Linked DNA regions of Homo sapiens. The protein of the gene in region 2 purifies or fractionates together with the protein of the main gene of each other region. This does not show direct contact. Each region holds a gene or a part of one and is shown on either strand. Other genes may lie near its edges.

Evidence for each region. Proteins that work in one complex are often made in the same cells at the same time.
Region 1: the proteins of CSTF2T (region 2) and CSTF1 purify together in Homo sapiens (affinity purification with mass spectrometry; 3 studies listed by BioGRID and IntAct, with this or other methods). This does not show direct contact.

Annotation. Positions count from the first base shown.
Region 1 is NC_000020.11:56,395,493-56,399,246, forward strand, and holds part of CSTF1 (cleavage stimulation factor subunit 1), read left to right. Parts: intron 1-28; 5' UTR 29-60; coding exon 61-229; intron 230-1,714; coding exon 1,715-1,992; intron 1,993-2,151; coding exon 2,152-2,349; intron 2,350-3,474; coding exon 3,475-3,754. UniProt on the Homo sapiens protein: One of the multiple factors required for polyadenylation and 3'-end cleavage of mammalian pre-mRNAs. May be responsible for the interaction of CSTF with other factors to form a stable complex on the pre-mRNA.
Region 2 is NC_000010.11:51,697,872-51,701,625, forward strand, and holds the start of CSTF2T (cleavage stimulation factor subunit 2 tau variant), read right to left. Parts: upstream 1,725-3,754; 5' UTR 1,679-1,724; coding exon 1-1,678. UniProt on the Homo sapiens protein: May play a significant role in AAUAAA-independent mRNA polyadenylation in germ cells. Directly involved in the binding to pre-mRNAs.

The DNA.
Region 1 (3,754 bases), on a different chromosome or scaffold from region 2:
CTTCACCGTCCATTTTCCGTTTTTGCAGCTGGCAGGGAAACTGTCTTCCTTTTCTCCAAGATGTACAGAACCAAAGTGGGCTTGAAGGACCGCCAGCAGCTCTACAAGCTGATCATTAGCCAGCTGCTATATGACGGCTACATCAGCATCGCCAATGGCCTCATCAATGAAATCAAGCCTCAGTCTGTGTGTGCACCCTCGGAGCAGCTCCTGCATCTCATCAAACTCGGTAGATTGTGAACACAAATCCATACGTCCCATGGCAAGGTTTTAGATATTTTCATATGGCAGAATTTTTCAAGATTATTCTTGTTTTGTTTCAGTACCTAGTATGAGCCGGGTACTTCAGTAAGTAAGTAGTTCAGCATGAGTTCAGGAAGTAGCTCAGTAAGTAAGGGGTAAAGCAAAGTTCAGATTATGAAGACCTTAAGCTGGTTCTGGCCTGAGGGTCTTTGTACACATTATCTGGAACACTCTGTCAGACATATTACTGACTTCCTTCAGATTTTACATCAAATGTCATCTGAGTTCTCTTAACTCCTCCTAAAATAATCCGACCCTTTCGTGCATTTTCCCGGTTACCCTGCCATAGCGATCCCATTTGTTTTATAACAGTTGTTTTGAAATTTCCTTTATCATTTGGGCTGTTTCCCATGGGATCCTTACCTCCACACTTCCCACCTACTGCTGCCCCCTTGTCAAAAAAGACTACAAGTTGAGTAAGGATCAGGACCTTGTATTATTCAGCAGTATATCCTGGAGCCTACCTGGCTAATAATAGAAAGCACTCAATAAAATATTGAATTACCAAACATGTTAATACCCTTTGACTTGGCAGTGCCAATTGTGAGCATTTCTCCTGGGGAAATAAAATGGACAAACTGCAATGCCAACAACATGGAATTAGCTGTAAATTTTTAAATATCCATAAAAGTGAATACTATAACATAATTATATAGATGAATATTTATTAGCCAAGATACACTTTTGTTCTGCTTGATTAAGTGAACAAGTGAGTCACAACATGTTACACAGCATTGCTCTATTACTGTTTTGAAAAATAAAACAGCCGTGCACGGGGAAGGATCCCTAAGAATTTATACCGATACGTTAACAGTTATTATCTCTGGGTGGTAAAATTCAAGGTCATTTTTATTTTCTTGTTCATCCATAGTGTTAATTTTTCCTCTACTAATCAACATATTATTTGATTTGTCAAGTTATTTATAAATTTTAAATGCATATTCTTGATAAACCAGTTTTTTTTAAATAACTTTATTTCAAAAACATTTCACTAGCATTCATGTTAACAATGTAGCTAACTTAACGAGCATCAGAGCTGCTAATATATCTCAACCCTAAAAATATTAAAATTTGGAATGGAAAAAAATGGATAATTTAACTACAGAACTGCTATTTTTTGAGTTTCTGTAGTTGTAGATAAAGTAGTAAACTCTGGAGGCAAGAACCTGGGGAAATGACTTTGTCTATTGGAGCCTAACCTTCCAGCAACCCATGTGGCCTCACAGCGTGGTGAACTTTGAATAGCATGGGCAAAATACACAGTTTTGTAAAGTGTTAGGTGTCACGCGGCTCCAAGAAATAGGAGGTTGACACTGGTGAGCATCTTTCCAGTTTGGATCTAGAATTTTATCTTGGCCTTTTTAAGAAAAAACACTTGTTTTGTTACGCCCTTAATTTTGATTTCTTTCAGGAATGGAAAACGATGACACCGCAGTTCAGTATGCAATTGGTCGTTCAGATACTGTTGCCCCTGGCACAGGGATTGACCTGGAATTTGATGCAGATGTTCAGACTATGTCCCCAGAGGCTTCTGAGTACGAAACATGCTATGTCACATCACATAAAGGACCATGCCGTGTAGCTACCTATAGTAGAGATGGACAGTTAATAGCTACTGGGTCTGCTGATGCTTCGATAAAGATACTTGACACAGAGAGGATGTTGGCCAAAAGTGCCATGCCAATAGAGGTAAAAATTCCAGTCACATACTTATTGATTGCCTTCTGTTTTTCATTTTTGGAAAAATGAGAGTATGGTTGAAACCAGCTTTAGTTTGCTACAGTTGTGGATTGTGCACTTGGATTCAGACACATTCTGTGCCTTGAGCATCTCTTCTTGTTGGTCTAGGTCATGATGAATGAGACCGCACAACAAAATATGGAAAACCACCCAGTGATTCGAACTCTTTATGACCATGTGGATGAAGTCACGTGCCTTGCTTTCCACCCAACAGAACAGATCCTGGCTTCTGGTTCAAGGGATTATACTCTTAAATTATTTGATTATTCCAAACCATCAGCAAAAAGAGCCTTCAAATACATTCAGGTAGGAATCTTTAGAAAGGAGCTTTACATTTTTTCTTAAATACAATGAGCTATTGTACAACTATTCTCTTTTTAAAAGTAGTCTCAGTGATCATCCTGTAAGATGCGTACAGACCAGGATGCATGCCCGATGGCACATGGATCAGATTTTGTTGGCACATAGATCACATGCTATCATGTACCTGCTCCCTCTGGCTGGTCAGAGTTTATAATCTGACCCTTTGGAGGGTTTGGAATCCATATCACTCTCTAAAGGTTGTAGATCCCTGTTATAAACAAAACACGACCAGCTTCACTAATATATAACTTAGAGGAATAAAAAAAAAGTTCATTTGAAAGTATTAAGTATTTCCTGGCAAGGTGACATTCGGTACCCTATTTTGAATATGCATTGCAGAAATACTAATGTTTTAGTTGTGGCTTCTGTCTGTTTGATAATTAAACTAGGCTGGTTGCAGTGGCTCATGTCTGTAATCCCAGCACTTTGAGAAGCCAAAGTGGGAGGATCACTTGAGCCCAGAAGTTTATGGTCAGCCTGAGCAATGTAGTGAGACCTCATCTCTACAAAAAATTCTTTTAATCAGCTGGGCATGGTGGCACGCGCCGATAGTCCCAGCTACTCAGGAGGCGGAGGCAAGGATGATCATTTGAGCCCAAGAGGTTGAGCCTGCAGTGAGCTGTGACCATGCCGCTGCACTCCAGCCTGGGCGACAGAGCAAGACCCTGTCTGAAAAAAATAATAATAAACTTAATTTTTCACTCAATATTTGCAGCCCTAGAGCAAATTAAAGAAGCTCTTAGGTACAAGTTGTACTTCAGTTAACCATGCATGAATGTGTCATTGTCTGATAATACTCCATCCTTAGTTTACTCAGTGTTCATTTGTAAATAATGAAGCTCACTTCTGTAGTTTTTGGAATAATATAACCAGTAAATATTTAGTTTTGGAAATCTATTCAAAAAATACTTTCATATGTTCCAGAAAGCACTTTTTTTCTTATGATACCTGTGTAATATCTAATAATTGTTTTATAGATTCTTTTCATCAGCCAGATATTTTCCACATTTCCTCTGGATTTAATTGTTCACCAGTTGGTCACTTGTATTAATGTCTCTGTCCCAACAGGAAGCTGAAATGTTACGTTCCATCTCTTTTCATCCTTCTGGAGACTTTATACTTGTCGGAACTCAGCATCCTACTCTTCGCCTTTATGATATCAACACCTTTCAATGTTTTGTCTCTTGCAATCCTCAAGATCAACACACCGATGCTATATGTTCCGTTAATTACAATTCTAGTGCCAATATGTACGTAACTGGAAGCAAGGACGGCTGCATCAAATTATGGGATGGTGTTTCAAATCGATGCATCACAACTTTTGAGAAAGCACATGACGGTGCTGAAG
Region 2 (3,754 bases):
TAGGCTGGCTTCCACCTTGCTTGCTTGCCCCCTGTATACCTCCTCCTTGTATACCTCCTCCTTGTATACTGACTCCTTGTATGCCTGCCCCCTGCATCCCTCCTCCTTGTATGCCTGCTCCCTGCATGCCTGTTCCTTGTATGCCTGTACCCTGCATACCAGCTCCAGGATTCCCCACCCCTGAAATGCCTGGGACCTGTCTGGGTCCCTGAGGAGGGCCACCTGCCCCTATATTAATGGGACCAGGACCCTGAATTCCACCAGTCATAGGGCCTCTTGAACTGGGGACAGGGCCCCTCATCTCCAATCCTCTTGCATCCATGCCCCTTGCTTCCATCCCTCTGGTTTCCATCGCACAGGTCTCCATTCCTCTCCTCTCCATTACACGTGTCTCTAAGACCTCAGTTTCCATGGCACGAGTCTCCATCGCTCGAGAATCTCTACCACCTCTACCATCCATAGGTAGACCCCTTTGATCTATCATGGGGCCTCTGGGCTCTCCAATTAGCAGTCTGGGATCTCCTAATGGCCCTCCCCTCATCTCATGTGAGGAAGGGCCACGAGTGTCATGACCAGAGGCATGATGCATGGGGGGACCCTGATGGGGTGGACCCAGATAACCTCTGGGCTCCACTTCTCCAGTGACTGAAAGCAAAGTCCCTCCACGTGGGTCATTTGGAGCATCTCCTAACAGTCCTCGAGGAGGCAGACCACCAGGAGTCACGGGTCCGCGAGGTATAGGAGCTCTAGGATCTGACATCTGCACTTGTCCCCGCTCTAAAGGCACTGGGCCAACCCCTGGCATTCCAAGTTGGGGCTGCATTGCTCCTCCAGGAGTTAAGGAACCAGGACCAGCTCCGGGAACTGCAGCTGGTATTGGCCCTGGAGCTGGAATTCCACCCTGGATAGGAGTCTGCATCAGAGGAGGAATGTCCTTCACAGGTCTTCTAGCCAAATGCTGAGGCTGAGGAGCTGGAGGATTCTGCTGGTTCAGCAGAACATTAGGTCCTGGGCAGAGCCCAGGGCCAGGGCCAGGGCCAGGGCCAGAGACAGACACAGACTGAGATTTGCCTGGGATCAGTGGTGTGACATGTATCTTCCGATGCAGAATTTTCAGAGCAATCTCTGGATCCATGATTCTCATCACTACTTGTGCCTGCAACAGTGCATAAGCCAGTTGTGGATTTTGAAGTAACATGTTTCGAGCTTCCTGGTGGCTGTTTTGGACACAGAGCTTCATCTGCTTCATCAGCTCAAACATCTGCTCCGGGGGGAGACTGGCTACTGCTCTGGTAATCGATTCAGGGGCATCTTCTGGATCGATGGGATCCCCATAGGGTGAGTCAATAATGGGCGCTGCAGGCCCAAGGCTCTTTAACTCCTCCTTATTCTTTTCACTGGCAGCATTGTCCACCCGAAGCGCTCTCCCACTGAACTCCCGCCCATTGAGGTTCCGCATGGCACTAAGCGCGGTCTCCTGGTCTTGGTATTCGCAGAAGCCATAGCCCTTGGGTTTTCCCGTCTCTCTATCGTATACCAGCCGGAAACTGACAACAGAACCAACCTCCGAGAAAATGTCCTTTAACTGCTCCTCAGTTGCCTCATATGGAATGTTCCCCACGAACACGGAACGCAGTGATCGATCCATTGCCGGGTCTCTCACCGCCAAACTCGACATGATTCCGGTTGTGCAGACAGCCGATAGCGGATTCTTCGAGGCGTCTGTCCTCTTGCGACCGACACTTCCGCTGAGCAACGGAAGCGGCTTTCAAGATCCGGGCAGAAACTTTACTAATTCGCTTGAATCGTTCCGCTTGCCTGTGGAACCTGCATCCCACTAACAACTTATCTAATGCTTTCAGTCCCTGATCCTTCATGGTTCTGTCAGCTTCTTATTACAGAGTCGCATGATTCCTTTCCCATTTCACGTTCCGCTGACTTTCTGTGGGGCCCCAACAGCCCCACTACGACACGCTTGGTACGAGATGACCACAGTAAAGATGGCCGCATAGACTTCACCGTAGTAACTGGGAGGGGACTCTTCCCTTGACGTCAAAGGCGGTTTTGCTTCCGTTCCGCTGGCGGGAAACCGCCAACCGAAAGCGGATTTAAGGCGGCGTGTTTTTCGTTCTGACAAAGTATTTTCATGTGGCCTTTTATTATAGTATAGTTAAGCTAGATTTAAAATCACATTCCAGACTGAGGGAAAAGCGTAGTCGTTTCAGCACATTTGAGATTTGCCCCTTAAACTAAAACAGTATTATATCTCCTTTTTAGAACAACGTTTTTGGAAATTAACTGACAAGAAATATAAACTGAAGCGTGTGCCGGCTGGGCCCTGCCCCCATTCTGTTGCTTCCTATAACCGCTGTTAATGGATGGGTGGCAGACCCTTCTAGGTTTTTCCTGAGCACACGGGCAGCCGTCGTGCTATTCCTAATATTACGGTTTTCTTCCTTAATAACAACCGATTTCAATATTAATTGGTGATTAAATAAATTAGTGATTAATTAGTTATTAGTATTTTATGGCTTCAGAGTATGGAATAAAGAAATTTACTTAACTATCCCTACGTTGATTGGTTCTGATTTTTATTATATCATGCAGTGAGTCCACCACTTCCATGAAGGGAGAAACAAATAGCGGGTGTTTGTCTTCTGCTGTTAGCTTTGCAGGTAGGAGTTAAAACATATTCAGTGTGGTGTTTCCCCGCCTGCAATTCGAAGCTAGAACTGAAGCTTGGAGAGGGCTAGGTAAATTCCCAAGGACAAGCAGCTGGAAAGAGGCCAAGTCAGGATTCTAACCCAGCTTGGTCTCGCATAGCTCCAATTCTACACTGCCTTACGTGTATTGAATATATGAAATGAAGCTAGTGTGATTGAAGAAATGAATTTTAAATCTCATTTTTTATTTAAATATAAAAACTAATGTTCAGTAAGCTATTGGAAAACTTTTTTAGTATTTAGAACAACTTGGATATAGAATCTACTTTTGCAATAATAAATTGTGTTCTAAATAAAAATCATTTTGAAGAACACTAAGACAAAAAATAAAAACAAATAAAAAGAAAGTATTTCCAGTCAAAATTTAACATACTGGTTGAGGTGTGCCATACATGTAACATACATGAAAGATTTTAATGATCAAATACAAAAAAAGTAAAAATAGCCCATCAATTTTATATTTTTTATAAGTCGAAATGTAATATTTTTATATATTTGAGTAAAAAATTATTTTGAAGTTAATGTTATTCATTTCATTTTACTTTTTTAAATGTGGCTATTAGAAAATTTAAAATTATATGGATAGATTGCATTATACTTCTGTGGACTGGACTGCTCCAAGCCTGTGCTTTAATTCCAAAACAGAGAATTATTTTATTCTGAAATATGCCTCTTAAGTGGATTATGAAACTTTTAAATTTCAGCAAAAAAATTGTATTATGTATCTTCAGTATCCTATTCCAATGAATAGATTTGACATGAGTATGATGGTTTAGCTGCAAATAAGACATCCATTTACCTTCAAGTTTTTGAAACAGTTCTGCACTTAGCTGTTCACCCAAGATGCGCGACAGTTTATATTTGCAAGTGACAAGGTTCATTTACATCACCTAATAAGATTTTCCTGCTATGTCAAAGAAACGGAATAGTCACCTGCTAGCAATGTTTCCCCAGTGTGATTCTTTTATTGGGGACGAAAGGGGAGGGGTTAAGGATAGTATCATTTAAAAAAACTAAAGACAAATCTATTT